Linked DNA regions of Homo sapiens: regions 1, 2, 3, 4 and 6 are each linked to region 5. Evidence: fine-mapped expression QTL. A gene starts in region 5. Each other region holds a variant in brackets. All regions are shown on one strand. Distances are between the middles of the regions. Region 1 has its middle 82 kb from the start of LINC02182. Region 2 overlaps ZNF469 (zinc finger protein 469). Region 3 has its middle 52 kb from the start of LINC02182. Region 4 has its middle 56 kb from the start of ZNF469. Region 5 holds the start of ZNF469 (zinc finger protein 469). Region 6 overlaps BANP (BTG3 associated nuclear protein).

What was found. PIP is the estimated chance that this variant, and not a neighbour inherited with it, causes the effect.
Region 1: its variant is the best candidate, but not a certain one, in a credible set for the expression of ZNF469 in whole blood (TOPMed, PIP 0.90).
Region 2: its variant is the best candidate, but not a certain one, in a credible set for the expression of ZNF469 in whole blood (TOPMed, PIP 0.72).
Region 3: its variant is the best candidate, but not a certain one, in a credible set for the expression of ZNF469 in whole blood (TOPMed, PIP 0.63).
Region 4: its variant is the best candidate, but not a certain one, in a credible set for the expression of ZNF469 in tibial artery (GTEx, PIP 0.88).
Region 6: its variant is the best candidate, but not a certain one, in a credible set for the expression of ZNF469 in whole blood (INTERVAL, PIP 0.71).

Annotation. Positions count from the first base shown.
Region 1 is chr16:88,273,413-88,278,483 of GRCh38, forward strand. It overlaps a transcript of ZNF469 not described here. Among named protein-coding and RNA genes, the nearest start is that of LINC02182, 82 kb to the left of the region's middle. RefSeq lists an enhancer at 1,242-2,047. The variant C/G (reference allele first, on the strand shown) is at 2,954.
Region 2 is chr16:88,415,954-88,421,024 of GRCh38, forward strand. All of the region lies in intron 1 of ZNF469 (zinc finger protein 469), which reads left to right. Among named protein-coding and RNA genes, the nearest start is that of ZFPM1, 35 kb to the right of the region's middle. The variant T/C (reference allele first, on the strand shown) is at 2,645.
Region 3 is chr16:88,139,732-88,144,802 of GRCh38, forward strand. It overlaps a transcript of ZNF469 not described here. Among named protein-coding and RNA genes, the nearest start is that of LINC02182, 52 kb to the right of the region's middle. The variant A/G (reference allele first, on the strand shown) is at 2,350.
Region 4 is chr16:88,323,930-88,329,000 of GRCh38, forward strand. It overlaps a transcript of ZNF469 not described here. Among named protein-coding and RNA genes, the nearest start is that of ZNF469, 56 kb to the right of the region's middle. The variant A/G (reference allele first, on the strand shown) is at 2,266.
Region 5 is chr16:88,380,200-88,385,270 of GRCh38, forward strand. ZNF469 (zinc finger protein 469) reads left to right here and starts at 2,760. Exons shown (of 3, transcript NM_001367624.2): 1 at 2,760-3,055. RefSeq lists enhancers at 487-1,031, 1,576-2,119.
Region 6 is chr16:88,023,206-88,028,276 of GRCh38, forward strand. BANP (BTG3 associated nuclear protein) reads left to right here. Exons shown (of 14, transcript NM_001386991.1): 8 at 4,278-4,445. Among named protein-coding and RNA genes, the nearest start is that of BANP, 74 kb to the left of the region's middle. RefSeq lists a silencer at 1,412-1,658 and an enhancer at 3,935-4,505. The variant C/T (reference allele first, on the strand shown) is at 2,186.

The DNA of each region.
Region 1 (5,071 bases), 110 kb before region 5:
TTGGGAAATGCAAATCAAAACCACACTGACATACCACCTCACGCCCATTAAGATAATTACCATAAAACACAAAGCTAAACCAGAAAATAACATGTGTTGGCAAGGACGTAGGGACACTGGAACCCTCCTGCAAGGTTGGTGGGAATGTAAATGGCACCGCATCTGTGGAAGACGGTATGGAAGTTCCTCAAAAAATTAAAACTATATCTGCTTTATGATTCAGCCACTTTTGTGTACATACCCAAATGAACTGAAAGCTGAGGTCCAAAGAAACATCCGCACACCCATGTTCACAGCAGCACTATTCACAACTGCTAAAAGGTGGAAGAAATTCAGTGTCCGTGGACAGGTGAATGGATACATACAATGTGGTGTATTCACACTGTGGAATATTTTTTTTTTTTTTTTTTGAGACGGAGTCTCGCTCTGTCGCCCAGGCTGGAGTGCAGTGGCGCGATCTCGGCTCACTGCAAGCTCCGCCTCCCGGGTTCACGCCATTCTCCTGCCTCAGCCTCCCGTGTAGCTGGACTACAGGCACCTGCCACCATGCTCGGCTAATTTTTTGTATTTTTAGTAGAGACGGGGTTTCACCATATCGGCCATGATGGTCTCGATCTCCTGACCTCGTGATCCGCCTGCCTCGGCCTCCCAAAGTGCTGGGATTACAGGCGTGAGCCACCGCGCCTGGCCAGAATATTTTTTATTCAGCCTTAAGAAACTCTGACACATGCTACTGCATGGACGGACCCTGAGGACATTCTGCTCAATGAAATAAGCCAGACACAAAAAGACAAAAACTGTCTAATACCCATGGTGTGAGGTCCCTAGAGCAGTGAGATTCACAGGGCTGGGAAGTTAGTCTTTAATGGAGACAGAGTTTCAGTTGGAAAGCTGAAGAGAGTTCTGTGGATGGTGGTGGTGATTGCACAATGCCGGAAACGTGTTTGATGCCACTGAACTGCTTACTCAGAAATGGCTAAAGTGGTAAATTTTATGTTATGTGTATTTTACCACAATAAAAGATAGAAATATAAGTCTCATAGACATGGTGTTGCATGAAGTCACATGCTTCTGGTGTGACCGCACCAATAGAAGTTTCACAACAGATCAGCCCACCCTCTGCCTTCAGAAGACAGGCTGGTGTCCGGGCGGGGCCCCCGGGGAGGGCAGGCCGTGTCCTGATTCTGGATCGGGCTCTGGTGACATGCGTGTGCTCTGTGTGAAAAGGCCGTGGGGGTGTGCTTGCTTGCTCATTTTTCTGTGTTTCTGTTATCCTTGGAAGAAGGTTTTAAAACTACAGAATTCAGTTCAATTCTGCTATTCAGTTATTAGAGTAAAGGACACTTCTTTCACCGTAGCTTCATGGAGGACTCGCCGTATTGCCTTAGCCCTCACTCATGGCCGTAGGATCCTGAGAACCTTCTCATGGACCTGACATGGTTCGCAGACGGACACTGGCAAACATTGCTTATGGGGCAGCACTGGCCCCCAGGCAACAGCCGAGCTGTTTTACAAACAGCGTATACACGCTTGGACACTCGCTCGCACACATGCCAACACTCTGATTTAAAAACTAAAAAGGAGCAAAGTTGCCTTAAAGACAGAGTGAGTGTGTGGGAGGGGGTTTCCGGGAAGCCTGGGTGTCCCCACCCCCATGTCTGTGGGCTGGAGAGATAGGGCACAAATGCTCCCACGAGCTCTGCAACCTGGAAACGATTAATTAATTAGACAGTGGAGACGGGAGCCTGCCGCGCATTTGGCCTCTGCAGGCAGCTGCTTTTTTATGTCTCGCTGACAGTCCGAACGATCCTACATAAAATGGGGAGGGGCCGGCGAGCACCTGGGGAGGCCGAACAGTGGATCCCAGCAAGCACAGCCACCATGCAAAGACCCCAGCCTCCGGTGCTCTGCACTTTTACATGTAAAACATCACCAGAGACAAGAAAACATGTCTTTGGAAGCTACCTGGGTTACTTGGAGTCATGGGTGCTGAGTTAGCTGGAGTTAGCTGGGGTGACGGGTGCTGAGGAAGGCACCAAGAATCCAGTGCTCCTGAGATCCCCTCAGAGCCACAGCTCCTGCCGCCACCCACCTTCCGGGGCGTTGATGGCGGGAGGGTGCCTGGAGTGGCTCGGGCCCTCACAGCATCCTTCCACCTCTGTCATCACCCTGAGAGGGAGGCGCGGCTTTCTCCTCATGACTAGAGTGGGTACACTGAGGCACTGAAAGACCAGGCTGGTGTCCAGGCTGCTGGCTCTGAATCCCATGCAGCTTCTAAACCGGTGTTTGTCACGAGCCTGATTTCCTCCTTCCCCCAAACCCCAAAGCCTCCCAGGACCCTGGTTAGGGAAGGAAGTGTGGGGCTGGCAGCGTGGTCCTGACTCTTGTTGCGGCATGGCGGAGGGGATAAGACCCCCCCAGGAGGCGGGGCACAGGGGAACAGGGGAAGGTGTCTCCCCAGCCCCTGGCTCACACAGCCCAAGTGAGACACAGAGTCCTGTAAGATGGAGACCAAGGGGCTGGAAAACACGGGAACAGGCCCATAAAGTGCAGAGTCCATCCTGGGAGGCCGTGGCAGCGACCCCGGCAGGACCACAGCGCTGCAGTCCTTCCCCCAGCATGATGCCGCCTGGCACCCTCCAACAGGCTCCACATGGGCCAGCAAGTGGACACCCCCTCTGGGGCACAGTGCAACGACCAAACAGAGTGATCCAGACTTAGATGCCATCCTGGGGGTGGGGGATGGGGTGAGAAAACGAGGCCCCTGCACAGGAGTCAAGGCCACAGAAAGCTGGATGGGCAGGTCCTGGGATGGCCAGGCCCCTGTGCGTGTAAGCGAGTGTGCTAAAACCATCCAAGCACACTCGCTGGATATGGAGTGGGGGTGCAGCAAGCAGGGGGGATTGGGAGGAAAGTCAGTGCATTTCAGACAAGCGCCATCAAGCTGGCCCCT[C/G]TCCTCCACGGGGCCTGGCAACTGCCCACCCTGGGGGGCTGCACCCTACTGGTTTCCCCAGCACCCCCGCCGAGCACCTCAGCCTAAATGTCTGTGTGTGATTTGCAGAGTCCTCCGGAGGCTGAGAGCAAACGGCTGCACTAGGAACCCAGCAGTCAGACCGGCCCCCACCCTGGAGTGAACACATCGCCACTGCCAGGCATCACAGGGGTAAGGAGCGGTTTTCTCTTCTCTTTAAAGCTTGATTTCGCGTCACGTCCTGCCTTTTTCCTTATGTTTATTGTCACGGGCTGTATCGCATGAAGACAGTGCACGAGTTAGTACTGGAATCATAGCAGTGCATGGGTCAGTGCTGCACCACGCTGACACTCAGTCAGGACCCTGTAGATGTCATTAGTGCCACCCTACGCTGACACTAGGTCAGTACCAGGTAGATATCATTAGTGCTGCGCCACGCCGACACTTGGTCAGTACTGTGTAGATATCATTAGTGCTGTGCCACGCTGACGCTCGGTCAGTACCATGTAGATATCATTAGTGCTGTGCCACACTTATGCTCAGTCAGTACCATGTAGATATCAGTGCGTGGTTAGTGCTGCGCCACGCCAACACTCGGTCAGTACCATGTAGATATCATTAGTGCTGTGCCACGCTGACGCTTGGTCAGTACCATGTATATATCATTAGTGTTGCACCACACTGATGCTCAGTCTGTACTGTGTAGATGTCAGTGCACGGTTAGTGCTGTGCCACGCTGACGCTTGGTCAGTACCGTGTAGATATCAGTGCACGGTTAGTGCTGCACCACACCGACGCTCAGTCAGTACCGTGTAGATATCAGTGCACGGTTAGTGCTGTGCCACACCGACGCTCAGTCAGTACCGTGTAGATATCAGTGCATGGTTAGTGCTGCGCCACGCCGACGCTCAGTCAGTACCATGTAGATATCAGTGCACGGTTAGTGCTGCACCACGCTGACGCTCAGTCAGTACCGTGTAGATATCATTAGTGCTGTGCCACGCTGACACTCGGTCAGTACCATGTAGATATCAGTGCACGGTTAGTGCTGCACCACACTGACGCTTGGTCAGTACCATGTAGATATCATTAGTGCTGTGCCACGCTGACACTCGGTCAGTACCGTGTAGATATCAGTGCACGGTTAGTGCTGCGCCACGCCGACACTCGGTCAGTACCGTGTAGATATCAGGGCACGGTTAGTGCTGCACCACGCTGATGCTCCGTCAGTACTGTGTAGATAGCAGTGCATGGTTAGTGCTGTGCCACGCTGACACTCAGTCAGTACCATGTAGATATCAGTGCACGGTTAGTGCTGCACCACACTGACGCTTGGTCAGTACCATGTAGATATCATTAGTGCTGTGCCACGCTGACACTCGGTCAGTACCGTGTAGATATCAGTGCACGGTTAGTGCTGCGTCACACCGACGCTCGGTCAGTACCATGTAGATATCAGTGCAGTTAGTGCTGTGCGACGCTGACGCTCAGTCAGTACCACGTAGATATCAGTGCACGGTTAGTGCTGTGCCACGCTGACACTTGGTCAGTACCGTGTAGATATCAGTGCACGGTTAGTGCTGCGCCACCCTGACACTCGGTCAGTACCTTGTAGATATCAGTGCACAGTTAGTGCTGTGCCACGCCGACGCTCGGTCAGTACCATGTAGATATCATTAGTGCTGTGCCACGCTGACACTCGGTCAGTACCATGTAGATATCAGTGCACAGTTAGTGCTGCACCACACTGACGCTTGGTCAGTACCATGTAGATATCATTAGTGCTGTGCCACGCTGACACTCGGTCAGTACCGTGTAGATATCAGTGCACGGTTAGTGCTGCGTCACACCGACGCTCGGTCAGTACCATGTAGATATCAGTGCAGTTAGTGCTGTGCGACGCTGACGCTCAGTCAGTACCACGTAGATATCAGTGCACGGTTAGTGCTGTGCCACGCTGACACTTGGTCAGTACCGTGTAGATATCAGTGCACGGTTAGTGCTGCGCCACCCTGACACTCGGTCAGTACCTTGTAGATATCAGTGCACAGTTAGTGCTGTGCCACGCCGACGCTCGGTCAGTACCATGTAGATATCATT
Region 2 (5,071 bases), 36 kb after region 5:
CAGAGTGCGGACACCCCATCCCCACCCAGCTCCCACCCCGGGCACTTCACTAATCCTCTCGTCCTTAGGAGGCAAAATTATAATCACTTTTAATTGAAAAAGGAGGCTGATATGATTCCGAACCCCACAGCAGCGGGAGAGTAATTAACGCAGCCACCAGGCGTCGCAGAAACCCATTAATCATGTCACTCAGGAGACAGCTCATTAAACCTCGGCTGGGGCAGTGGGAGGACCAGGTGACCCCCATGTAGGCCTCATCGGTCCCGGTTTCTCATGCAGAGACCTCACTCGAGGTGGGATGGGCTCCGTTCCCAAAAACCAGAGGCCGTGACCTTCTCAGGAGGCCACTTGACGGCACAGGGGAATCCAGGTGGCTGCTCGAAGTTCACTTACGCTATTGCTGCCCGGGCGTCCTCATCTGTGAGATGGGCCTGCTGGGGCTTCCCCACGCTGGAAGACAGACGACACCCAGGCCTCCCGTCCTACCTCCCACCCAGACCAGCTTCACACTGTCACACGTTGTGATCTTAGTGGTGTGTGACTTCGGCAGGATCTCCAAGGCAAGCTCTGGGCCTAGCCGGAAGCTTCTGACCCAGAGAGTCTGGGTAGGCCCCAGAAAAGACCACTGAAAGAAGCCACTTCAGACGCCACCACCATTACCGTGAGAAATTGCACGCAGGGCTTCATTGGGAAAGAGTAATGGAAAATAACTAGGGTTTCTAGCATCAACAAGCAGTCACGTGGTGATTGGTTGTTTTAGGGGAGGGATGGTAACAACCTTGCCCACAAAATCAAAACCCCGCAGGACCACGCACCCTTCGCCCTTCCAGGGCTCCCTCCACGGGACCCAGCCTGCAGAAGGGTCCTGCAGGAAGTGGCACGCTCGCTCCCCGGGAGGGGTACCCAGGGCTCCTCTTGGGGGACCAGAGCCTGAGCAGGGGCCTGTCCTGCGGTCGGCGTCTACCCCAGGGCCTGGGACTGTCAGGTCAAGGTCAGCCACCCACACACTCAGGGCGTCCTCCTGGGGTCCCGTGGAGTCTCCGTGGTACTCGGCTTCCTTCTCGCTGTGACAGGGTGAGGGCTGACAGCTCCAAGAGAAAGGCAGACTTGGGCACCGCCTGCCCTTTTCCAGAGCTGCTGCTTGGCACATGGAGGACTGTTTGTCTGCTGGGCCTCCCCCAGGAGGCCGAGAGCAAGGCCCCCACCCACCCTGCCCAGAGCGTCGCTGCAAGGGAGCTCAAAGCCAGGGGCGAAAGAGCCCAGGCTCCGCCACTGTGTGGCCTGGGGCAGGCCCACACCCTTTCTGAGCCACTGTTCCCATCTGTGAAGTGGGCACACTGACCGAGTCACCCTCAACGATCCTCATTCTAGAAATCCAAGGCAGGGCTGCTCGACCGGCCAATGAGAGAAAGGCACCCCCGTCTTTGGATTTTAAAGTGGGTTCTGGGGCTGTGGGCACCGTTGCCCATTCTAACCACCTGCCACCTCCACACCCTGGACGAGCCGTCTCAGCCTTGGGATACCCGCCTGGCTGTATTCACCTTGGCTCTGCTAGAAGGTTCCTGGGGCCAATGAATCCCAATCCAGTCCCCGCAAGCCAGATGCCTGGCGGGGCGGCCCCCAAACGTTTCTCGCTCCCCGCACATGGTCCCTCTTCCTACACCCTTTGGGCAGGGGAGAAGGACCCTCAGACAAATGTGCTGATGGAGGCAGCTGGCGTTTGCTGGGCTCCGGTACAGCATTGACATTTAGAGGGTAGGCTGTGTCTCCAAAGTCATTTCTGGACAGCATGCTACAGTTGCACCTCCACCTCCCAGTGCCGGGGAGCTCTCAGAGTCTCCTATAGAAATGAGGCCCCAAAGCCCCCCATGGCCTGGCAGGGGAGTGTGCGTGAGCCCACGTGTGCATGGGCATGTGTGGATGTATGCACGTATGAGCATGTGCTCACGCGTGTGCATGGATGAGCATGCATAACTGCACACACCTGTATATGTGTGCATGAGTGTGTCCACGTGTGTGCTCACAGGGAAGGCCTGTCCCCACCCTGCAGCCCACCCGAATTGGTCCCTCACCCTAACCTAGAGCCCCAGGTTCAAGGAGCAGCTCCTGGAGACCCCAGGAATAACAGCTGCCCCAGCTGGACTCTACCCGGGCTCCTGAGCACCAACTCCCTGCCAGGCCCAGGATGGGGGCAAGCAGAAGACCTGCGGCCCCAACCGGTGTGATGCCGGCAGTGAGGACAGGGGACAGTACAGCAGCAAATGGACACCATCTACAGAGCCGGGACCAACAGCAACAGCTCTGTGGTCAGGGAGGGCTTCCTGGAGGAGGTGGCATTGGAGCTAAAGCTGAAGGCCCATCTCGGTGAGGCCGTGGAGGGTTGTCTAGGAGACTGAGCAGAGCTGGGTTGGGGCCTGGCCACTGATGAGGTCCTGGTGTCCTTCTGGGTAATGACCCCCTGAATATTGGCCTTTGTGGCACAGAGGGGCAGAGGAGAGGGGGGCTGCCGTTCTTGCCTGCCTCTTGCCATGTGCCAGCTCTCAGCAATTTCAGTGGGTGGCAGGGCTCCGTCTTTAAGCACAAATCCCCACCGCCCCCCCGGCCACCTCCCTGTCATTTTCGAAGACATCATTTTCTTTCCCCA[T/C]GTGCCCCCTTATCTCCCTCCTGTTAAAGGATCTCGAATAGGCACCCCGATAAGACAGGACGAACACCATTCCCCAGCCCCTCCAATGCCGGCCTCCACTTTCCCCCAAAGTAATTAAGATAAATGCAGCTGATAATTTGCGCCGTATTCTTAAACTTACCCTCCGGGCCATATCTCAGATATAATTTTACCTGCAAAGGTTTATCTGAGCACTCAGGTAACAGATAGTTTTTAAGCAAAGCGGCAGCGTTTGAAGCAAAAGGAAAGGAGAATGTTTGTGAAATAAATGTCAGGAGGCAGCAGCGCTGCAGCCCCGTACGGCGAGGACTACAGACGGGAGGCCCCTGTGCTTTTCTCCTGGGCTGCTCGGCTCCACCAGGGTTTGGGGTGAGCCTGGCCGCCTGCCCAAGTTGTGAATGGGGCCGGATGGGTGTGATGGGCAGACACGATGCTCAGGATGAAGGCCGGGGCACAGCCGAACTCCTCCCTTTTCCCAGCCTTGCTGTCTCGGGTGACCTGGGACCGGAGGCTGCTGCCCAGCGGTGCTGGCACACATGGCATCTGGCTTTGTGCTCCACACCCATCGGGGAGAGGCTAGCTGGCTTCAGGGGCCGTGCCAAGCCACGGAAGGGGGGTCAGACAGCAGGGGACGGTGCCCAGGGTGACACAGCTCGGACAGGATCAGCCCTGGTGGGCAGCCAGAGGCCGGAGGGAACCGACAGACTGGACCGAGCTGGTCCGAGGACGGGCCGGTGCCTCCCAAACAGACCGGGAGAGCTCAGCACGGGAGGCCAACATCCTGACCCCGGCTCTGCTCCCCAGACTTGCCATGTGACCTTGGGCAGGTTCTGTGAGCCTCAGTTTCCCCCATTCGGCCTGGAAGCCCAGCTGCTCTTCCCAGCCCGGTCCCACCCCATGGCACATATTTCTTGGCCCTTGTGTGGTGTCCAGGGTGGGACAGGTGGGGCCCTGGGATTGGGTGTGGACAGCCTCCCTAACCCCCGGCAGCCTCCCACTCCCTGCCCCTGAAGCCCATGCTGGTCCCACCCCTTGAAGCGCCGTCTGCCCCCTCAATAGCACTCCACCCCTCCTCAACGTTCCTCCAACAGCCAGGAATGCCCCCAACGCCATGCCTGAGAGACCCTCACCCAAGGCCAAGCCTCGGCTGAAGAGTCACATCATCAGAGCAGCCGCTCAGGTCACCCAGAAGGCCCCATGTCCCCACTCTTCTCTCTCAGGCCAGGGCCTTGGAGCTGGGATTGAGCCAGGCAGGACTCGGGGGCCTGTGGGGCTCACGCAATGCCCTCCTCTGCCAAAGGGAGGAAGGCACAGAGAGGGGTGGAGGCCGGCCTGAGGCCACACAGCACACAGTAGCAGACCCTGGCTGCAGGTGGGGGCCAGATCCCAACTGCAGGTTCAGCTCTCAGCCATGCTGTCCTTCCCCAGTGCCATGTCTGGAAAGCGGGGCCACACGCAGGTTCCATGTGTGGGGAAGACAGGGCACATGCACCAGGCCCCACTCCCACACCGGGACGAGGGAAGAAAGGGCAGTTCTCCCGCAGCTCCCCCTCGCCTGGAACCCCACGCTTTCCGCTCTCCCCACAGAGGGGCTGAGGAGAAAGGGAGAGCCAGTCCCTGCTGTTTGGGAAGGCACGGGCCAGCCCTGACGACAGCAGAAACAACCAGGAGAATGAAGCCTACCCCACACCAGGGATGGATGCAGCTGAAAGGGCTGGGACCGTTCACAAGGAGGAGGAGCAGGTTGCTTAGGATGCCTGGCTGCAAGTGGGACTGCGTGAGCGTTGATATCAGGGTGTCACAGACAGGCCCAAGGACCCATCAGATCCAACCTCCATTTACAGTTGGTGAAACTGAGGCCAGGAGGCCCAATTGGACAGTGGCACTCCAGTTGGGCAGTGCAGCCGAGTGTGCAGGGCTCCCAGGCCTGGTCCCCAGGGGATGGCCACCAGGATGTGGAACGACAGGCGCCCTTTGAGAATTGCAGGATCATGGAGACACGCCCGAGGAGTTCACACCACACGCAATCCAGGAGGGCTTCCTGGAAGAGGGATGCCATGCTTCTGAGCAAACGTCTGCTAGGCACTCACTGCGTGCTGGTTTGTGTGCTCCATGAGGTGGCTTGCGTTGTTCTGTTTAACCCTCTGACCACACCCTGTGAGGTCAAGACTCTGATCATCCCCATTTCACAGGTGGGAAAACGGGCTCAGAGAGGCTGGGACGGGGCTTGGATCCCACAGTCAAGGAGTGCGGGATCTGAGAGTCAAGCCCAGGTGGGGCTGGCCCCAAAGCCCCCTGTGTGGTTGGCCAGGAGTGAGTGGGGGTCGGGAGGAAGGGAAACGGGAGGGGCAACCCAATCCGAGGGATCTTCTCCAGCAGAGGCCCCAGGAGGGGCTGGGAAGGAAGGGC
Region 3 (5,071 bases), 240 kb before region 5:
TTGCTGTCTGTCCAGGCTTTGAGTAGAGGAAAGAAGTTTCCCATAAGAAATAGAATCTCCAGACCTTCTCGACACCTGAGTCTGGTGACTGCATGGTTAGCACAGCACAGAATCCCTAAGACGGAAATTCACAGAACCCCAGGCCAGAGGATCTGGTAAATGAGGACATTTCCTCAGCCCAGCATTCGTGAGACAGTCTCCAAACAACAGCATCAACAACAAAAGATACACAAAATAACTCCTACCGAGTTTGAGCTCCAATAAACAGCCACAGGAAGAAACGAACTGTCAGGATCAAGTGCAGTGAACACAGAATCAGCACTGTGCAGACAGGGAATAATTGAACAGCAGGAAATACATGTGTTTATCTAAAATTATTTAATACAAAAGAGGGAGTCATAATGAAAGTCCAGAGCAAGAGAAATGGATTTGGCATTGAAGTGGCAGAACCGATTTAAATGAAAAATATAGTCATAAAAAAAAACTTTGGCTATATTAAATGGAAGCTGTAAGAGAGCTGGTAAGAAAAGTGGCCGGGGAAATACAATACGGAGGAATAAATATTTGGAAAGGAAGACAGAGCCATTTAGAAATCGGAGGGTAGCACGGAGGAAAGGAGGACGGAGCCACGTAGAAATCGGGGGGTAGCACGGAGGAAAGGAGGACGGAGCCGTGTAGAAATCGGGGGGTAGCACGGAGGAAAGGAGGACGGAGCCACGTAGAAATCGGGGGGTAGCACGGAAAGTCAGTGACAACACTGATTTACAAATGAGCAGGCAGAACGTGAGAGACGCGATGTTCAAAGATCCTGCAGAAAAGCCGGGGGCCTTGCCCTTCTAGTTACCAAAATATACTCTAAAACTGTGTTAATCCAGGAGGAATTTCAGTATAGAAACAGGTAAGTGGATTTTAAATTGAGGCCAGGCGCAGTGGCTCAGGCCTGTAATCCCAGCACTTTGGGAAGCCGAGGTGGGTGGATCATTTGAGGTCAGGAGTTCGAGACCAGCCTGGCCAACATGGCGAAACCCCACCTCTACTAAAAAATACAAAAGTTAGCCGGGCGTGGTGGCGGGCGCCTATAATCCCTGCTACCTGGGAGGCTGAGGCAGGAGAGTCGCTTGAACCCAGGAGGCGGAGGTTGCAGTGAGCTGAGATCATGCCATTGCACTGCAGCCTGGGTGACAGAAGGAGACTCTGTCTCAAAAAAACAAACAAACAAAAAAACAAAAAAATCAAGTCTAGCGTATGGCCCTTTACAAGAGAATTTAATGTAGGAAATTGGTCACGTTTGAAAGAGAGGAAAGAATCATTCAGAGGCATCGTTGGGCCAATGAATCCACCATCTGGAAAAACAAAGTTAGAACCCCACCTTACGGACACAATAAATTCTGTGCAGATAAATCCGCTAAATTGCAAAAAAAGTATAAAAGTATTAGTAGAAAAATAGAATAGTTGTATAATTCTGGTGGAGGAAAAGACTTTCTACCCCAAATTCTAATCCCAAAAAGGACAAGATGGACGTCTTCAGTTACATAAGAAGTTAAAGCAGTTGTGTAACAAAAGACACCAAAACCAGTGTTAGAAGACAAGAGTCGGACTAGGAAAGAAACATGCAGCCCGGGAAAGACGCCCTGGGAGGTACCCCCGTCCTGGTCCCCGGAGCCTGCTATGAAATGCTCAGCCTGGGAAAGAGGCCCTGGGAGGTACCCCCGTCCTGGTCCCCGGAGCCTGCTATGAAACGCTCAGCCTGGGAAAGAGGTCCTGGGAGGCACCCCCGTCCTGGTCCCCGGAGCCTGCTATGAAACGCTCAGCCTGGGAAAGAGGTCCTGGGAGGCACCCCCGTCCTGGTCCCCGGAGCCTGCTGTGTGCCTCTCCCACGGCAGTAGGGCCTGTGCAGATGGGACTGAGCGAGAGGCCTCCAGGTGGGGACCATCCTGGTCATCTGGGTGGCCCAAGGTCATCACGGGCATCCTTGTAGGAGGGAGGCGGGAGGCCAGGGGCAGGAGGGTCAGCAGCAGGCAGTGGCAATGGCAGCAGAGGTCGTGGTGACGTCAGAGGCACCATGAGCCCAGGAACACAGAAGCCTCTGGAAGCCAGAAAAGGCAGGAAAGGGATTCTTCCCTGCGCCTCCAGAAGGGACCAGCCCTGCCGACACCTTGATTTCAGCTCCGTGAGAGCCGGTTGGGCTTCTGACCGCCAGAGCTGTGGGAGAATGCATTCGTGTTGTTTCAGCCATAAGTCTGTGGGCCATTTGTGACTGCAGCCGCAGGAGGCTACGCAGACAGGCTCATGTGTGCAGATCTGAGCTGAGCTCGAGATGCCTGATGCAGATGATAGGAAATAGTCCAC[A/G]GCGGCCAGGATCTCAACAGGCTTCCAGGGGAACAACACAGCGATGTCCAAGGGTGCGTCCAGGGTGAAACTGCAGGGCCACGTTCAGCACAGGGAAGCAGAGAAAGAAGGTGAGAATAAATCAGCTGTCCTTCCTGCAAGACCCGGCTGGGCGGGGGGTCTGGGAAAGGCTGCCCTGGGAGGGTGAGCAGGTTCCCTGGGCTCTCAGCCACAGCCCTGCCCTGCTTTGCTAGGTCAGGCGAAGGCACCTGACCTTCACCTCCTGGCCCTGGCCCTGCCATCCAGGCTGGGCAGATGATGTTGGCGGGCCAGAATCCTGCGAGGGTTATCCTGAGGCTCGAAAGTGGAAATAGATGGGAGGGACCTTGAAAAGCTCAGAGTGATGCCTAAGCGGGTCCTTATCAACAGCCCAGTGTGAGCCTCAAGCACTGAACTCCAGCCTCAGGACTGAGAAGGTCCTTATCAACAGCACAGACCTCAGCGTGAGCCTCAAGTCTCAGGAGCTTGAAGAATGGCTTCTGTTTACTGAGCACACGTGATGTGCCAGGTGTGGCCCTGGGGCTCGAACTCTATTGCCTGGTCTATAAAGCACATGTCACCACCCTGTTTTACAGAGGAGGAAACTGAGGCTTGGGGAGGCTCATCAGCTCACCCTGCGGGGAGTCGGCCGGCAGCAGCTGCGTCGCTGTGGATCCCACCCGAGGGTCCCTGATGTGGGTCACACCTGTGTGCTGGCTTTAATCCCCAGCCCCACCTGGATGTGCAGCCTGGGGCCAGCATGGCCCACAAGGGTGGGACGGATGGCATCGTCACCCTCCACGCACAGGGGCCTGAGAGCACAGGGCCCCTCAGGGAGAGCCCCTGCGGCAGAATCAGAGTCTCAGGAATAAAGACAAGCAGAGGTCTCAGTTTCTCTGCCTGAAAACTGGGGGTGGCAATCCCCACCTCACCGGCCTGTGATTAGGATGGGAGGAGACAGGCTGAGATGGGGCCCCAGGCACTTCACCGACACCCGGTGAGCACTCACCGAATCCTCACCTGGAGAAGCCCTGGGGGGGTGGGGGGCTCAGCGGCCCTGCCCACGGAATGCCCACCTGGAGCTTCTTCAGTCATGGCATCAGGGGCAAGTGCTTGATCGTTTTGTGCCTCAGTTTCCCCCTGTGTCAATGGAGATTTCAGCAGTTCCAACCTGTTCAACACCATGAAGATGGAATAGGTTAGCGTGCTTAACGCACTCAGGGCCGTCTCCAGCCTTAAGGAGGCACCACTCAGAGCGGGGTGGAGCGCCTAGCGGGGTGGGGTGCAGAGCGGGCTGGGGCGCCGAGCAGGGTGGGGCACCGAGGCTGTGTTCCTTGTTGCTGGGGGGATACAGATGCCCCCCCACTCCTTCCCCCTAAGACGCAACCACCAGCCTGGAACTGGAAGTGGGGATCACCCCCACCTTCGGGCCTCTGCTCCCCCCATGCGTGGCCCATGGCCATGCGTCTCCCTGCAGCAGGAGAAGAAAGCCAGGAGGTGGCCCAGGCCCAGGGCTGACATGTGTCAGACACGGGTGAAAATGCTGCCTTTGTGTCTGACGTCTGTCTCTTGCTGTTAAATGATGACAGCTTGTCAGAAACATCACACACGTTTGCTCTAATTAAGGGAACGTTGTGAACAAGTCGCAGCCTTGCGGGGAGCGGTCCCGGCTGGATGTGTCCTCTGATCGGCCCCTGCCTGTGTCCTCCCAGGCCATGCACTGGCTCTGTGTCTCCTGCATCTTCACTTGTCTGCCTGGCTGGCGGCCAGCGGCACCAGACCAAGGACCCGCCGCTATTTCCCTGTGTTCGCTGCCTTCCTCTTCGCAAGGACACCGAGAGCCCCTGGCTCTGGGCCTCCCATCTGCCCTTCCTCCCGCCCATCGTCAGCGTTTACGAGGGTCTGCCACGTGCCAGGCGCAGGGGAAACGGCGCAGGGTCAGAGGCAGAACCCGCCTGCTGGGGAGACAGGAGTGGGGAGTGGCCTCACACCCCAGAGGAGGGGATGGAAGAGGTACGCCCGGGGCCGTCCCGGAGCAGGGCAGAGGCTTGGTCCAGCCTGTGGCAGTGAGCAGCCGGTGGGACAGAGGCCACAACAAGGCCAAAGGCGTGGTGGGGAGGGCGGGGGGCGTCTCTCTGGTCCCGGCAGAGCTGCCAGTCCCTACTACGTCTGTTTGTTGATTGGGTCACGTTTAACTTCGGGAACCATGCACAGTGTTGGCCAGGAGATGCCATAACCAGAATAAAACAGGACTCTGCCTGGCGTCAACGTAGCTGTCTCATGTCCTTTCAGGAGGTAGGGCAGAGATAAGGGGATGGTGTGATTAACGCCAGCTGCCTCTGCCCTGGTGGAGAGGACGGAGGACATCACGTCCCTCCAGCCACCCCAGCCCGTGACACGTGACATTTAAAGATTTTTCTTGCTCTTTGAGGCACATTTTTCTATTTTCAAGGACAGATGAGGTCACAGACGCAGTGTGTGCTGCATTTGAAATGTTTTAGGCTAATTTTTGGCCTTTGATTCCAAAGCCTCTTTAAGACGTATGTTCTCTCTGTCATCACCCGTGTGGCCCAGCGAAATCCTGAACTCTAAGGAGAAGGCGAAGCTCTATCCTTGCTTTTCAGCCTCAGACAGTGAAGTGAGAAGTTCAACTTGTTGGGTTTTGTAGCTGTTTTCTCCTTGTTTGCTAGACGTGTCCATATTC
Region 4 (5,071 bases), 56 kb before region 5:
TACCATGGTAGAACAATCACCCCAGAACTTAGTGGCTAAAACCAAGCAGAGTTACTTATTTTGCTCACAAATCAATGGTTGTCAGGGCCTGCGGGCAGCAGCTCACCTCAGTGACACAGGCTTCAGCTGGAGCAGCTGGGCTGGGGTGAGATCCGCCGCAAAAATGGCACACCACATGGCTGGCCAGGGGCCTGTGGTCAGCGCCTCCCCACGGGGCCTGTTCGGGGCTACTTGGGCTTCCTCACAGCATGAGGGCTGGGTCCCAAGAGGCAGGAAGTAGAGGCTGTCAGTTTCGGACCGCCAGCCCTGAAATTTTCTGAGCAATACTTCTGCAGCATTCTGTTTTGGCCAAGAAGTAAAAAGGTCCAGATTCAAAGGCAGAGACGCAGACCCCCACACACACCCCTTATGGGAGGTGGGTGGAAGGATGTGGGGGGCTGTTGTGTCACAGCTGTGCCGTCTGGGATGTTGACCTCCCCAGAGCTCTCAGGTGTGAACACACGTGTGGCCAGGCCTCAGTGCTGTCCTCTCCTATGGCTGTGATGCAGAGAGTCCCAGAACCAGGGCTCAGCCCGGGAGGGTTCTTGGCTTCACTCAGGAAAGAATTTGAAAGCCAGCTGGTGGTGGAAGGCAGGTTTACTTAAGCGGCCGTGTACAGAGAGTTGCTGCTCCTTGCAGAGCAGGGCTAACCCACAGGGAGTGCGCCAGGGTGAGTGCATAAGGGACTGTAGCTGTTTTTATACCCACTTTTAAGTATGTGCGAATTAAGGGGAAGGTTATTCAGAAATCTCTAGAAAGGGGGCGGCACCTTCCAGATGTTGCCATTGCGTTTGTAAACTGTCATGGTGCCGGTGGGTGTGTCTTATGCTGATGGGCAGAGGGGGCAGCTGGAGGAAGCTGTGTTAGTCTGTTCTTGCACTGCTATAGAGAAATACTTGATACTGGGCAATTTATAAAGAAAAGAGGGTTGGCTCACAGTTCTGTAGGCCGTACAGGAAGCATGGTAGCTTCTGCTTCTGGGGAGGCCTCAGGAAACTTACAGTCATGGTGGAAGGTGAAGGGGGATCCAGCACTTCAGCCAGTGGGAGCAGGAGGAAAAGAGAGAGGGAGGAGGTGCCCTTGGGAAATATCCTTCCAGCAGCTTCTGGTTGAGATCACATCCAGCTGCGGCATACTCAGGGTCTCAAGTCCTCACCTGCACACTCCAGGTGGTCCCGACAGCAGCTGCGACATACACAGGGCCTCAAGTCCTCACCTGCACACTCCAGGTGGTCGCGACAGCAGCTGTGACATACACAGGGCCTCAAGTCCTCACCGGCACACTCCAGGTGGTCCCTACAGGCTCCGTAAGCTGCCCGAGGTGCACCCCGGGGGGCCGCAGGGGCTCAGACCCAGGACACCCACCAGACTGCACAATTGGTGGCCAGCTTCTGGGGCAACCATCAGGGTCACAGTGGGAGAGGCACAATTTCCACCCAGAGCATCACTCTTCCCAATTCATGCCTGAAGGCGGGGCAGCCGCTGAGTACCCTGCCCAGGGGACCCGGAGGACACAGGTCAGTGATAGGCGTGGCCCCACCACTGCAGCCAGGGGCACTATGTGTGGTGGCGCCAAGCCCAGCATGGCCAGAAATGACACTGATACCCACACCAGGACACAGTGTCCCAGGGTGGTAGAGCTGGAAGGGCCTCTGCCACTTAGGGCTCCTGGTCCCATCCCTCATGCAATTTGTGGCCTGTGAGACCCCCTAAGGGAAAGTGACTTGTTCAATGTCACCCCAAAAGTCTGCAGTGGGGCCAGGACAGACAGGGCCTTGCCACTCAAATGCTCCGTGTGACGGCTACCCTGGTCCTTCCTTCCCCTCTTTCTCCTTCCTTCCTCCCTTTCCTCCTTCCTTTCTTCCACGCATCCCAGATGGGGCTGCAGGGCAGAAGGATCGGTGCTCTGCCCCCTTAGACCTGAAGGACGCCACTTCCTCTCTAGCCTCAGCTTCCTCAGCTGTACACTGTGAGCAATAGAGCTAACAACACCTGTCAGTCAGTCCAGGGGTGGCCACTGTGCCTGTGATTGCGCCCCCTCCCCACTCCCAGCCAGTGTGATCCTGTAGGCAGAGAGGAGGGGCTGCCAACCCAGAGGCCCCAGCAATGGGCCACAGACATGTCCTGGTCTCAGAGCCTTTGTGATATGGTTTGGCTGTGTCCCCACCCAAATCTCATCTTGAATTCCCACATGTTGTGGGAGGGGACCCAGTGGGAGGTAATTGA[A/G]TTACGGGGGTGGCTCTTTCCATGCTGTTCTCGTGATAGTGAATAAGCCTCATGAGATCTGATGGTTTTAAAAATGAGAGTTTCTCTGCACAAACTCATTCTTTTTGCCTGCTGCCATCCATTTAAGAAGTGACCTGCTCCTCCTTACCTTCTGCCATGATTGTGAGGTCTCCCCAGCCACGTGGAACTGTAAGTCCATTAAACCTCTTTCTTTTGTAAGTTGCCCAATCTCAGGTATGTCTTTATCAGCAGCATGAAAATGGTCTAATACACTTCGAGACACTCTCCAGGGACTGCAGCTTCTGCTGCTCCTGGGCCTCGGGGACATCCAGAACCACTTTATTAAAGCACCCAAGGCCCAGGGCAGTGACACTGCTGGGCAGGACACCGCATGTTTCCCAGGGACCACCCTCCAGCCACCTCACATGGAGGTCAGGACCAGAGTGCCTGACGCAGGCACTCACATGGAGGCCTCGGGTTTGGGGTGTTTGCTTTAACGTCACTGACTCATGGGACCCCCGCTGTGAAAGCACCTTAGAGACCTTCCAGAACAATCCCAGATCAGAGGGTGACACCCAGGCCTTCCCTGGCCAGGGCAGCACTCGGGCCGGTCCTGACCCCCCCGCTCTTTCCTGACTCAGCCATGGCTGCCTTGTCTGCACTTCATTTTCTTGAAAACTGGGCAGAGTACCCAATGCCCACCTGGCAGCGGGGCCCAGGAGCAGCACCCCCACCTCTCTCGGCCTGTGTCCCTGTCTCCCTCCCCGTCGCTCTCCCTCCTGTCTGTCTGTCTTTGGTTTGAGCTGTCTCCTGGGTCAGGGCGGCCCCGCCTCTCTGATGGGCGGAGGGTCCTGATGTCCTTGGTCTGTCCTCAGCATCTGCTGTGGGACCTCAGGAGAAGCGCCACTCTGGACCCCAGGAGTGGGGCCATCCCCCATCCCAAATAGTGTCCCTCGTACTGGCACAAGGTCCAGGCCCCGGGTGGCCGCCTCTCCAGAGCCTGTGGGACCCTGTGGCCTGCACCACTGGGGCTTCTCACACCAGCCCCTGCCTCCCCGGCACTGGTTCTCTGGGTCTGCCTCTCCATCCACTCAGCCTCACGCCAGCCCCCGCCTCGCCACGCTGGTCCTCCCGGCCTCGCCTCTCCTTTGTGCAGCACCCCTGCCACCTGGCTTTGGTAGATGCACCTTCACCTGCTTCCCTGGACGAGGTGGGCTGCAGGCCACATCCTGTGAAGCGGGTAGGCAGCCCCATCCCAGGGCGTAAGCATGGTGTGGGTGCTGAAATGTTCTCATCTGCGGTTCCCAGGGCCAGCTAGGGGCCAGGCCTGTGCCATCCTCAACATATCACGTTGGGGTTGGGGGGGGGTCTGTGCTCACGGTGGGCTGCGTCACCGGCAGCAGGACAGGGCACGTGCTCCGTACCTCAGGGCTGAGTGCTTCCAGGGCCACCTCCTTGTTCCTCCCTCCTCTCCGCTCCTCCACCGCCCTCTCCCCTCCCACCTTCCGTGCACACTCACTGAGCACTGACAGGGCAGCCTGGGCTCCATGCTTAGACCCCGCACCACAGGTGTCATCCGGAAGGAGCTGGAGAGGCCGCAGTGTGGTCGGAGCTGACTAGGCCCGGCTGCTTGAGAAAACCGGCCGGATCCCGAGTTCAGCTGGGGCCCACACACCCACCGGAAACACACCCAGCAGAGCAGAAACCAGAAACGTGAGATTGTCTACCAGAAACACTTTCACGGCCGGGCTCCATCACGGCTGCACACCCACCTGCTGTCCCAGCCAATGGGGAATGCACGACCCATGCTGCTGCCCAGGCAGGAGAGCAGCAGCTCCCGGCACACACGGCGACTCCCACAGACACAGAAGGGCACACGCCATGGGAGCCACGGTCCTAAAGCTGGGATGAGGTCGAGGAATCCGCAGGTCCCAGGGAAGGAGGAGCTGCCGAGTCTGTGCTTCTCGCCCGGGGCTGCTGTGCAGGCAGACGCACGCTATGTCATGGGCCAGGCCGGACACTTCAGTCTTGGTGCTTTCTGCACGTGTACTGTATTCTGCCTTAAAGGTGTATTTAAAATGCCTGTAGAGGAACAAAATTCTCACTCTGCTGCTGACTGTGTGACCTTGGCTGAACCATATGACGGCTCCCAGCCTGCACTTCCTTACCTGTGTGATGGGAATGATAGCAGTGCCTTCTTCACAACCTCCAGGGAGGTTCCCCAGGAAAACGCCATGGCAGTTCTCAGCCGGGGCCTGGCCGCATGGCTACCGTCGAAGCTCTGCTGCTGGACCTGAAACGCCACGGCCCCAGTGCAAGACACCATCAGTGTGTGCTCTGTGGGGAAGCTGATCCGATGCACCTGGCCTGACATGGATCTTTGTGGGGTCCAGGGCCCGGGTTCTTCTCCAACGCACTGATCTCCTCCATCCCTGGCTCCCAAAATGCACCAGACAAGGAAAACCAGAAGAAATCAGATACAACCCTCAAGCGTTCCAGCCGGGGGGCTGGGATGTGCACACACAGCTGAGTGCAATGGGAGAGGGTGCGGTGTGAGCAACAGAGGCGCCCAGTCTAGGGAGGGCTGCTTCCCACACAGTGAGCACCACACAGGAACCAGAGAGGATTCCAGGTGTCCAGAGAAAACAGCTGGGGCAGGCGGGTGGGGGAGACGCAGTTTGGCCACAGCAGAGGAGGCCGAGGAGGAAGCGGAGGAGGCCGAGGAGGGAGCAGAGTCAAACCGAATCAGCAAGAAGGGTCAGGGCCCTAAATGTTCTCCACGGGGTCCCGACGTTCACCCGCAGCC
Region 5 (5,071 bases):
CATGCACTCACACACAAATGCACTCACAGACATGCACTCACACACAAATGCACTCACACACGTGCACTCACACACCCAGACATGCACACACACACACGCACTAAAACACAGACATGCACTCACACATGCACTCACACATGCGCTCACACACATGCGCTCACACACAGACATGCACTCACACGCACTCACAGACACGCCCTCACACAGACATGCACTCACACAGATGCATTCACACATACACAGTCACACACAGACATGCACACACACATGCACTCACACATACGTGCACACACACATGCACTCACACAGACATGCACACACACGCACTAACACACACGCACTAACACAGACATGCACTCACACACAGACGCCCTCACACAGACATGCACTCACACACATGCACTCACACACGCACACACCCAGACATGCGCTCACACACATGCACTCATACACACACAGACACGCCCTCACACAAGACATGCATTCACACACATGCACTCACACTCAGACATGCACTCATACACACACAGACATGCACTCACACACAGACATGCACTCACAGACGTCCTCACACACATGCACTCACACACATGCACTCACACATGCACACACACCCAGACACACACACACACGCACTCACACAGACATGCACTCACATGCACTCACACACAGTCATGCCCTCACCCAGACATGCACTCACACACACTCACAGACATGCACTCACACAGACACGCACTCACACACAGACACGCCCTCACACACAGACATGCACTCACACATATGCACTCACACAGACATGCACTCACACACATGCGCTCACAGACATGCACTCACACACATGCACTCACACAGACACGCTCTCACACACAGGCATGCACTCACACACGCACTCACACACCCGGACATGCACTCGCACACACGCACACACAGACATGCACTCACACACACACTCACACACAGACACGCCCTCACACACAGACATGCACTCACACACATGCATTCACAGACACACACACAGACATGCACTCACACACGCACTCACAGACATGCACTCACACGCACTCACACAGACATGCACTCACACACACGCACTCACACACATGCACTCATGCACTCACACACAGAGACATGCACTCGCACACAGACACACACTTATACACACATGCACTCACACACAGAGACATGCATTCACACACACGCACTCACACACAGACATGCACTCTCTCACACACACACACGGGTTTGGAAATTGAAGTCTTTCTTAGAAACAAGAACAGACCCAGTAGAAACGAGAAGGAAGGAAACGCCCTCTGGGGTCTTTGTCCACAGCCAGGGGACCCCTGGCCCTTGAAACTTTAGGAAACCCGCTTGATTGAAATCCTGATTAACTCGAGAGGGTTTCTTAGTTCTTCCCCATTTTCCATGGAAAGGGAGATCCCAGGACCTGGAGGCCCCAGATGATGCCATGGAAATGTGAGCCAAGCCTCGAGCCTCTGGGGCCTTTCAGCCCCTGCCCCTTTTTCAATTCACGTTTTCGCGTCCACTGGCAGGAATGCCATGTGCTGCGATGCCAGCACAGAAACCCCACTGCCATGTGCAGTTCCTTTTAGTTTATTCTATACCGTTCGCAGAGTCCCAAAACAGCTTCAGGAGGCAGACCAGATTGGGGGAGGGGCAGGCCCACTCATTGGCTCCACCAGAAGGCCCGTGGTTAGGCCACACCTTGCTTTACATAATAAAGGTGTCCTTAAAAGGGTGTGCAACTTGAACTTGCGTAAGTAAAGCGTGCTTGACCTGCTCCCGGGGGACCTTTGTCTGAAGGACTAATTCTGAAAGCATTCCTTTCTGCGAAGTCCCCCCACTGCCACCCTATTTCTTAGAAGTCCACCAAGTTCATGACTTGGGATCCTCTGAAGTGGGGGAGGGCGATCCGTCCCCAGATGCTGCCCGTAACGCTGCACCCCTGCCCTTGGAGGAGGCCCACACGCCCCTGTCTGGGACAGCCGGGGACGGGCACGTACTGGGCCAGGGGGCTCTGCCTGGAGCCATCTCCGCCGTGTGGCCTTGGGCAGGTTCCTTGTCTTCTTCAGGCCTTGGTTTCCTTGGCTGTGAATGGAGATGTTGGACAAATGACCGGTAAGGGCCTCTCCCTCTCTAGGGGCCTGGATGGCTCCTAGCGCCCCACCAGCAATGCTGCCGAACTCACGGGCCAGTCTGGGGCAGTCCCAGGGCTGGACAAGGGACCCAGAGTGGAGACACGAAGGTCTGGGGGCAATGTTAGCTCCCACCTATGAGAAAGCGTGCCATGGGGACCTCCTTATGGTGCCTTCGAGGGCCAACTTGAGCCACTCAAACCGAACTTGCCCAGGCAGGTGCCAGGTGCCAGTCGGGACATCCCCCACCTCCTAGACAGAAGCACAGGGACAAGCGTGTCATGTGTGGGCACCTGGGGAGCTGGAGCGCAGGCCAGGGATGGAGATAGAGCAGCCACTGGAAGCCACATGGGTAGCATTATGGCAGACGTTTTTTAAGTTGTGCTGAATGCAGCGTTTCCGTCTCAGCAGCAAGGCCTGCCATTCTGGGGTGGGCTGGCTGGGGAGTGTGAAGAGGGGGTTCAGGGAGCAATGCCTCAGGGCCCCCCATCGCCGGGGTGGGTCCCATGAAACAAACACCTAGGAAAAGCGGCGCTAAAAATAGCTGGGGGGAGGGTGCGGGGGCGGCGGAGTCTGTAACCTAAGCCGCCCCAGCCTCCGGGGGGCAGACCCCGCGGCCGCCGGCCGGCGTCCGGCCTTCCCAGCACCCGGCCCAGGGCTGGAGCTGGCTGCAGGGCTGGCCCGCGGCGACCTGGGCAGGGTGGCGGCTGCTCCCTCTCCTCCCACCCCGCCCCGAGGCGCAGCGCGCGGCAGAGCGGCTCGGTGCCCGGCGGGCGGGCGGCCCGGGCGGGCCTGCGGTCGGGATGAGGACGGCGCCTCCGCTGCAGAGCGCTGGGGCGGCGCGGGCCGGGAGCTCGTTGGCGGCGGCCGGCGTGGCGGGCGGAGCGGGCCTCGGAGCGGAGGTGAGTGCGGATGCGCCGCCTGGGCGCGCGCGGTGCCTGGGGACCCCGGGCTGGAACGCGGGGCGGGGGTGTCACCGGGCTGCGCGGGGGTCTCCGGCCCGGCTCCCGCTCCTGCGCCCTCGGGGGCCGCTCCCCGGCGGGGCCGGACCCTCCCAGCGCTCGCGGCGCCCGGCCCGGCTCCCCCGACCTCCTCCTCCCGGGCCCGGACGTGCGGGGCAGCGAGCGCCGGGGCCCGGCGGGGGCCGCAGCCTTGCCCGGAGCGGAGCGTTGGCAGCGCGGGGTCCGGCTCCGTGGGCAGTTTGGGAAGCGCCCGGGCAACGTACTGGCGAGGGCCGCGGAGCGAGGGGCTCGGGGAGCGGGACCTCCGGGCGGGGCTGCGGGGAGCGGGGCCCGGGCCGCCCCATTCATCGCGGATCGGAGCCGGGGGTGCCCCAGCCGTGCCGCCGCCTCCTCCGGGCCGCCCGCCCGGGCGTGCTGGCCCCGCGGCGCTCCGAGCGCGGCATAGGCTTGCGAGTCGGCGGTGTCAGCGCCCCGGACGGGGGTGGGAGCTTTGGAGCCCACCCTGGGGGAGACCACGCCGCACCCCCGCCCAGCCCCGCGCACCCCCAGAGGCTTTTGCAGAGCCGGGAAGTTGGCTGGACGTCTAGACCCGTGGGGACGCGGCGCCCCGCGTGGCGGCGGCCGGAAGGGAAGGCCAATGGGGCTCGGGGGACTCCCGCGGCCACCCAGTCCTTGTCCCTGCACCCTGGGCCGAGGGCAGAGGGACAGGTCCCCGGCGGGGGCGGGGGGGCAGCTCAGCTGCCAAGTCCGCTCCTGCAGCGGAGGCGGTTAACTGCTTCATCCCCAGCCGTGAGCCATGCTGGGCATAGGGAGTGTGCCACGTGTTATCACGTTTAATCCTTACGTCCTGAGATCCGTGTTAACCCAAGTCTTAGATGCAGAAACTGATGGTCAGAGTGGGCTGATGCTGGGAAGTGAGCACAGCACGCGGTAGTGTCGTGGACAGCCCCTGCCCATTCTGCCAAGAGCAAGTCTAGTTCCCTTCTGCCGGTCGGGTGGACAAAGGTGTCTTGAGGCCCTCTCAGTGCCCAGCCTGTCCTAGGTGCCCCCAGCACAGCCCACAGCCCTGCATTCCTGAAAATAAACAAAATAAACAGGTAAATGCCTGGACAGCGTCGGGCGTGAGGGCTGAGCAGGGAGCTCGGAAGCTGGGGCGGAGCTGCAGTTTTAGGAAGGGCAGCCAGGCACCCTCGGAGGAGGTGGCCTGGGAGACGTGTCTTCCATGCCATGCGCCTGGCAGGTCCCAGACCACAGGACAGAGCTCACCGGGAGGTGATCATTCTGCCCTGCAAATAGAAAAGAGGAAGAGGATATCTGAGGCAAAAAGGAAGGCCAGGGCCTTCTCAAAGGGAACCCAGGGGCCCCGCAGAGTCTCAGCTTGGGAGGCACAGGTGAAGGGTGTGTGGCTGTAATGCCCCGAGGCTGGCAGCTCTGGGCAGTGTGCAAACCAGGAAGTCCCAGGATTTCAGGGTCAAGGGAAATTTTGGGGTCATGAACTTCAACCCCCTCATCAGCGCTTCAGTCTCCACCAGACCCTGCCTCCAGGTTACTGACTCTGCTTGGATACCTCCAGTGACCGGGAACTCACTCCCCATCACAGCAGCCTGTTCCAGCCATTCCTGCAGTCCTACCAGCTGGAATGCACTGGTCCATCATCCTGAGGCAGCAGGCAGCACATCTGCTCAGCTGTTACACATGGCTGCCTTTGGATAATTTTAATAGGGATGGTCTCCCCCTGTATGCCTAATCTCTTCAGGTCATTTCTGACTTGACATTCCTGGTCAGGCCCCATCCTGCCACCTTCCCCTGGGAGAAATTCAGTGGGTTTCTGCCCTTTCCTCGTGTTTGCTGAACGGAAGTAAACCTGAACACCAGGGTGGCCTGGAAGCAGAGATGCCCTCCCCTCCTTTCTCCTGGAGTCTTGTCACCACCGATAGTGCCCTAGATATCAGGCCA
Region 6 (5,071 bases), 360 kb before region 5:
GTGAGCAGAGCCTCCTTCTCAGCAGGTCACCCAGAAGCTGTGACCTGGAGGTGGTCCTGCAGGTGGCTGTGAGGGGCTCTCTGGCTAACAGACTGAGGACAGGTGTCTCTCCATCATTTTTTCTCATAAAGGAGTGAGTCAGCAGGCTTGAAGAAGGTGGCCGGCTTGGCCTGGAGGCTGGACGTTTGAGGTGCATGGGGCGTGAGCTGTGTATGCTTCCCCCGGGAGGGAGCATGTCAGCTGGCTTCCATCGGGCAGAGGCCTTTTGTTTTTCTAGGCAGCGCTGTCACGTCGAGTCTGTAATTTGAAGAAATCAGTTGTTGGCACTCGGTTTTGTGGTGCCTTCCCTTGCACATGAGAGTGTGTTAGCAGGTGGGGCTCTTCATTCCTTTGTGACTGATAAAGCCCCATGCCACCCACCAAGGCACAAGATGACAAGCCCTCCTGGCTCTCTCATCTCGCTTCCCACAGTGCCTCTCATGGCCCCACAGATGGAGAGCTGGGAATCGGCTTATGATTTGAACCACCAGAGTCAGTAACGGGGGTTCTGGAAAGTGGGAAGGCAGCTAACGGTGTAGTGGAGACTCTTTAGCTCTTTGGGGACTGCAGAACAGCTCGCCAGGAAAATAGAGGCGTGCACTGTGGCAGGGATGCTGCCTGGCTGAGCCTGGAAGGCAATCCCGTCCCGGCCTTGAGGGGCCTCGGTTGGTGTAGTGTGGGGATATGGCTGGGGAAAGCAGGGACTGAGGCCAGACAGGGTGTTCTGCTCCCAGGTGACGCCACGCTGTGGGGATCCCGTGAGCCTCAGCAGCCGGATGCCGAGCACTTCTGTTCTCCTTGTGTCCTGGGCGCTGCTGCAGGGGAGACTTCTGCCTCGATTGAAGTCCGACTAGGCCTCCCAGAGCAGGGGCTGCAGGTGCCTTGGGCTGAGGGAGCTCAGGACAGCAGAGTCACGTGTGCGGGGCTGTGCGTGTTCTTCCCGTCTCCCCGAGCACCTCTCATGGGTTCTCAGGATCCAGTGAGGGCCGCTGCTTCTTCACCTGGTGGGCCCAGGAAGCTTGCACTTTAAGGCCGGTGCTCACTCCTAACTAGTAATTGGACTTGGACACATCACTTCTCCTTTTTCTGGCTTTTGCCTCAAAACCAAAGTGATGAGAGTAGTGACATTCCTACTTCATGAGGCTTTTAAAAAAAAATGTCTGTCAAATAACATGAGATCAAATGCTTAAAGTGGAAAATGGCAGTTAAATTCAAGGTGATCTTTTGATCCCATCATGATAGGATTTTTCCCGCTCCCTGTTAAGTGCGGCTGCTCAGTGCTGTCAGAAAAGGTAAAGGAATCCGAGCCCTGAGGGCTGCCCAGACGTGGGCGCTTGCCCCAGCTGCTGTCCAGTAGCATCTGCGGGCGGCGCCTGCACCCGTAAGTGCATGTTCAGATCCTCGCCCTCCTCACCCACTGCACTCTGCGGGCAGCACTTGGGCGGCTGGTCCGTTCTCTGGATCTCCTTTGTGGCCGGCAGGGGGCATTCGCCCAGGCTGGGGCCTGGAGCGCAGACGGAAGGAATTAGATAATTTGATGTCTGAGGACAATGGAAACTCGGTGGCGGGTAACCAGATGAATATATATTTTTTATTTAATAAGTGTGAGTCAGGGTTTGAACTGGCAACTTGATTTTTACAAAGTTGAATTTAAATGTGAATGTTTTCACCCATTTCTCTTACCTATACACCTGGGTGTTTTAGATTTATCTTCTTTCCTGTTACTAACCCGTTTTTAAATTTTGTATGGACTCATTCATCCTTCAAAGTCTATGGAATTTTTCTCCTGGAGTGTGAAGGTGGGAGGGTCACAGGAGGGCGGTTCTGAGGATGTTTCTTTTTATCGACTCGTGCTCCAAAGATGTTTTCCTGCTGGTGGGATGGCTGTTTCTTTCTTGCCCTCCCGGTGGCAGCAGCTGGGCTGCTTTGTATCTAAAATCAGTAGCTGGGCTCTCATGAAACTATTGAAGTGCAGTTTGAAAGCTGGGTTTTCCGGTAACTATGGTGCAACCTCTGGCAGCAGCTGGGCTCTCCTGTAAGGATTTCCTAGTGATTTTAATGGTTGGGTTCCCCCATGACCACAGCCAGCGGCTGGGTTCCTCTGTGAGTCACTAAAGTTGCTCAGCCTGGGGCTTCCTGAGGCGCC[C/T]GAGTCACCCAGCCAAGATTCGAGGGTGACTTGGAGTATTTTAGAGATGACCCGAAAATTGGAAGCCAAAGGGCGGCTGCTTCCTGTATGGCTTCTTTATGCATGAGGATGAAAATGTGCTGCCGAAACCACTTTAGGGTGTTCTTCCCTCTCATCCTACAAATCCCACCGTCCTGACTGGTTTCTTTTTGTCTGCAGCACAGACAGGTTGGTTGTGATTATACAGAGATTCTAAACGTGTCTCAAGTATCTACTGATAAGAAAGTCAAGAGGCATGTTTCCAAAACCCGAGGGACTTTTGATACCTAATCGAGTACTTAAAAAAACCCAAACACTTCTTCCTCTGTTTTAATTATTTCCACCATTTTAGTCTCAATGGGAACAGATTTTTAGGGTTTGGGCAGTAGAGTCCGAACTTGAGGCTCTTGGTAGTTGAAACGGGACACTTTTCAGCTTAATCTTTTTATTACTACAATTTTGGATTCCATCCATGTATTTTCCTGTAAATTAGTGAAGTTGCATGAGCCAGCTAGAGAGGCCACTGCATTGAAGAGCCCTTCCCATCATGCCCACATTCGTCATCGCTACAGGGATGGGGTCCTGTGGCCTAGTGGGAAGTGGCCGGGCGTGCAGTGGGGCGCTGGCTCCCTCCTGTCACCTGCTCCGCCGTGGCCTTCGGATCCTCAGTTTTCTCCCTGTTGAATACAGGGCATCTCTGGATGCTGCTCAGGGCGTGCTGAGAGCTCTCCGTAGCGCAGGTGGTAGAGAACTGGGGGTCCCAGGACAGTTCTCTGCGTGTGCACGGTGAGCCCCAGGAAGACGATGCACCTGGCTTTGGCCCCACAGTGAGAGTAGGTTGTGCCCACTCGGCTTGTGGTATAGGGACTCCAGGGATGAGGACACAGGCCCTGCCCGTAAGGAGTTTGTACTCTAGTTGAGAAGGCACGATAGAGAGGCGTCGGGAATGACATAAGCAAGCCCCGGACCTGAGCAGCGATGGGAGGGTGTCTTGCAGTCCGTTGTCATCACTATTTACACAGGAGCAGCCACTGTGCGCCAGAATGTTCTGGGTGCCTGACCCCCATGGGTGGACACAACAAAGGCCCCTGTGTTTATGAGGGGGACAGAGTAACAGTGCATACATGAATTCTCCAAACTGTGTTTGCGAGGGGAACAGAATAACAATACATGCGTGAATTCTCCAAACTGTGTTTACCAGGGGAACAGAGTAACAATACATACATGAATTCTCCAAACTGTGTTTGTGAGGGGGACAGAGTAACAATACATAACTTGAATTCTCCAAACTGTGTTTATGAGGGGGACAGAGTAACAAAAATACATACTTCAATTCTCCAAACCGTGTTTACCAGGGGAACAGAGTAACAATACATACATGAATTCTCCAAACTGTGTTTGCGAGGGGAACAGTAACAATACACACCTGAATTTTCGAAACTGTGTTTGTGAGGGGGACAGAGTAACAATACACACATGAATTCTCCAAATGCCGGAAGGTGGTCAGTGCTCTGACAAAACAAGTGGGAGGAGGGTGGGAGCCCAGGAGGGCGGGAGGGCCAGGTGGTTATCCAGGGGGATGGTGAAGCCAGGACATGAAGGAAGGGAAGGCGGTGGCCGAGCAGGCCCGAGTAGGCAGAGGACCAGCGAGTTCTGATCCAATTGTTGAGGTCCCTGATCTCACCCTCTGGGCATTCAGGACCTTGGGTGCTGCTGTGAGCTCAGGGCAGAGGGAAGTTGGGGCGTGGAAGGTCTGGGAATCTTGTGAGAGCCCCAAGTGTGCACCTGGTGTGGGCCGACCGAGTCAGAGGGATCGAGAAGTTAAGTAAATGGAAAGAGTGTGTCATGACACCTTAGTGAGCATTTATATCTCGTGGGGAGCCCCGCCTGTGGGCCAGCTAAGCACCTTCTGTGCAGTGGGCCTTTCCAGACCCTTGCAGGAAGACGGGGCCGGCCTGGCGGGCTGGGGTGCCTGGGTGAGGCCTCTTCAGCGGGCCCCGGCCCTGCAGCCAGGCAGCTCCTGGTGGCTGTCCCGAACAGGCCTCACCGCTTCTCCTTGGATGTGTCCTTCCAGGTCACCTTTTCTATAAATTTGGCATCACAGAATCCGACTGGTACCGAATCAAGCAGAGCATCGACTCCAAGTGCCGCACGGCGTGGCGGCGCAAGCAGCGGGGCCAGAGCCTGGCGGTCAAGAGCTTCTCGCGGAGAACGCCCAACTCGTCCTCCTACTGCCCTTCAGGTAGGCCTCGTGCTGCAGGAGAGGCCGCCCTCCCCCGCTCGGGGCAGCTGGCCTGGTGGCACCCTCAGGGGCAGCCAGTGCGTGGCCAGCGGCTCCACCAGTGGCCGGGAGCCGAGGCCAGAGGCTTGCGCGGTGCGCACGGAGCAGTGGAGCCGCAGGACCTGTGCCTGGCCCCGTGCGCCCTTCACACGGACAGCCTCGGGCCTGCTCCAGGCTCCTCCGTGAGGGACAGAGGGCCTGTTGGGCCTCCCGGAAGTCTTCTGGATGGGGGCAAGGAGGCCGAGGCCTTTGCGTGGGGCTGCCGGCCGTTGTATTCTCACGATTTGCCGGGTGACTCCGGGTGAAGAAGTGGGGTGGATTCTGAATTATGCTTTATTTTTGCTTTGAGTTCATGGCCTTAGTTGGATTTATCCACAAGATAATGGAAACAGTTCTCTTTGAGTTGCCTCTCAGGCATCGCTGGGGGGATTGTTCTCCTTGGAGAATTTTCACTAGGAATGACAATGTGACTTGATACTGCCTTTCACCCAAGACATCTCAAAATATTTTAGTAAGTATTTGAATGAAAACTATTCTCTTAAAGCTCCCCACAGTAGCTGCATTGGCAGCGACTCTTGGAACTTGAG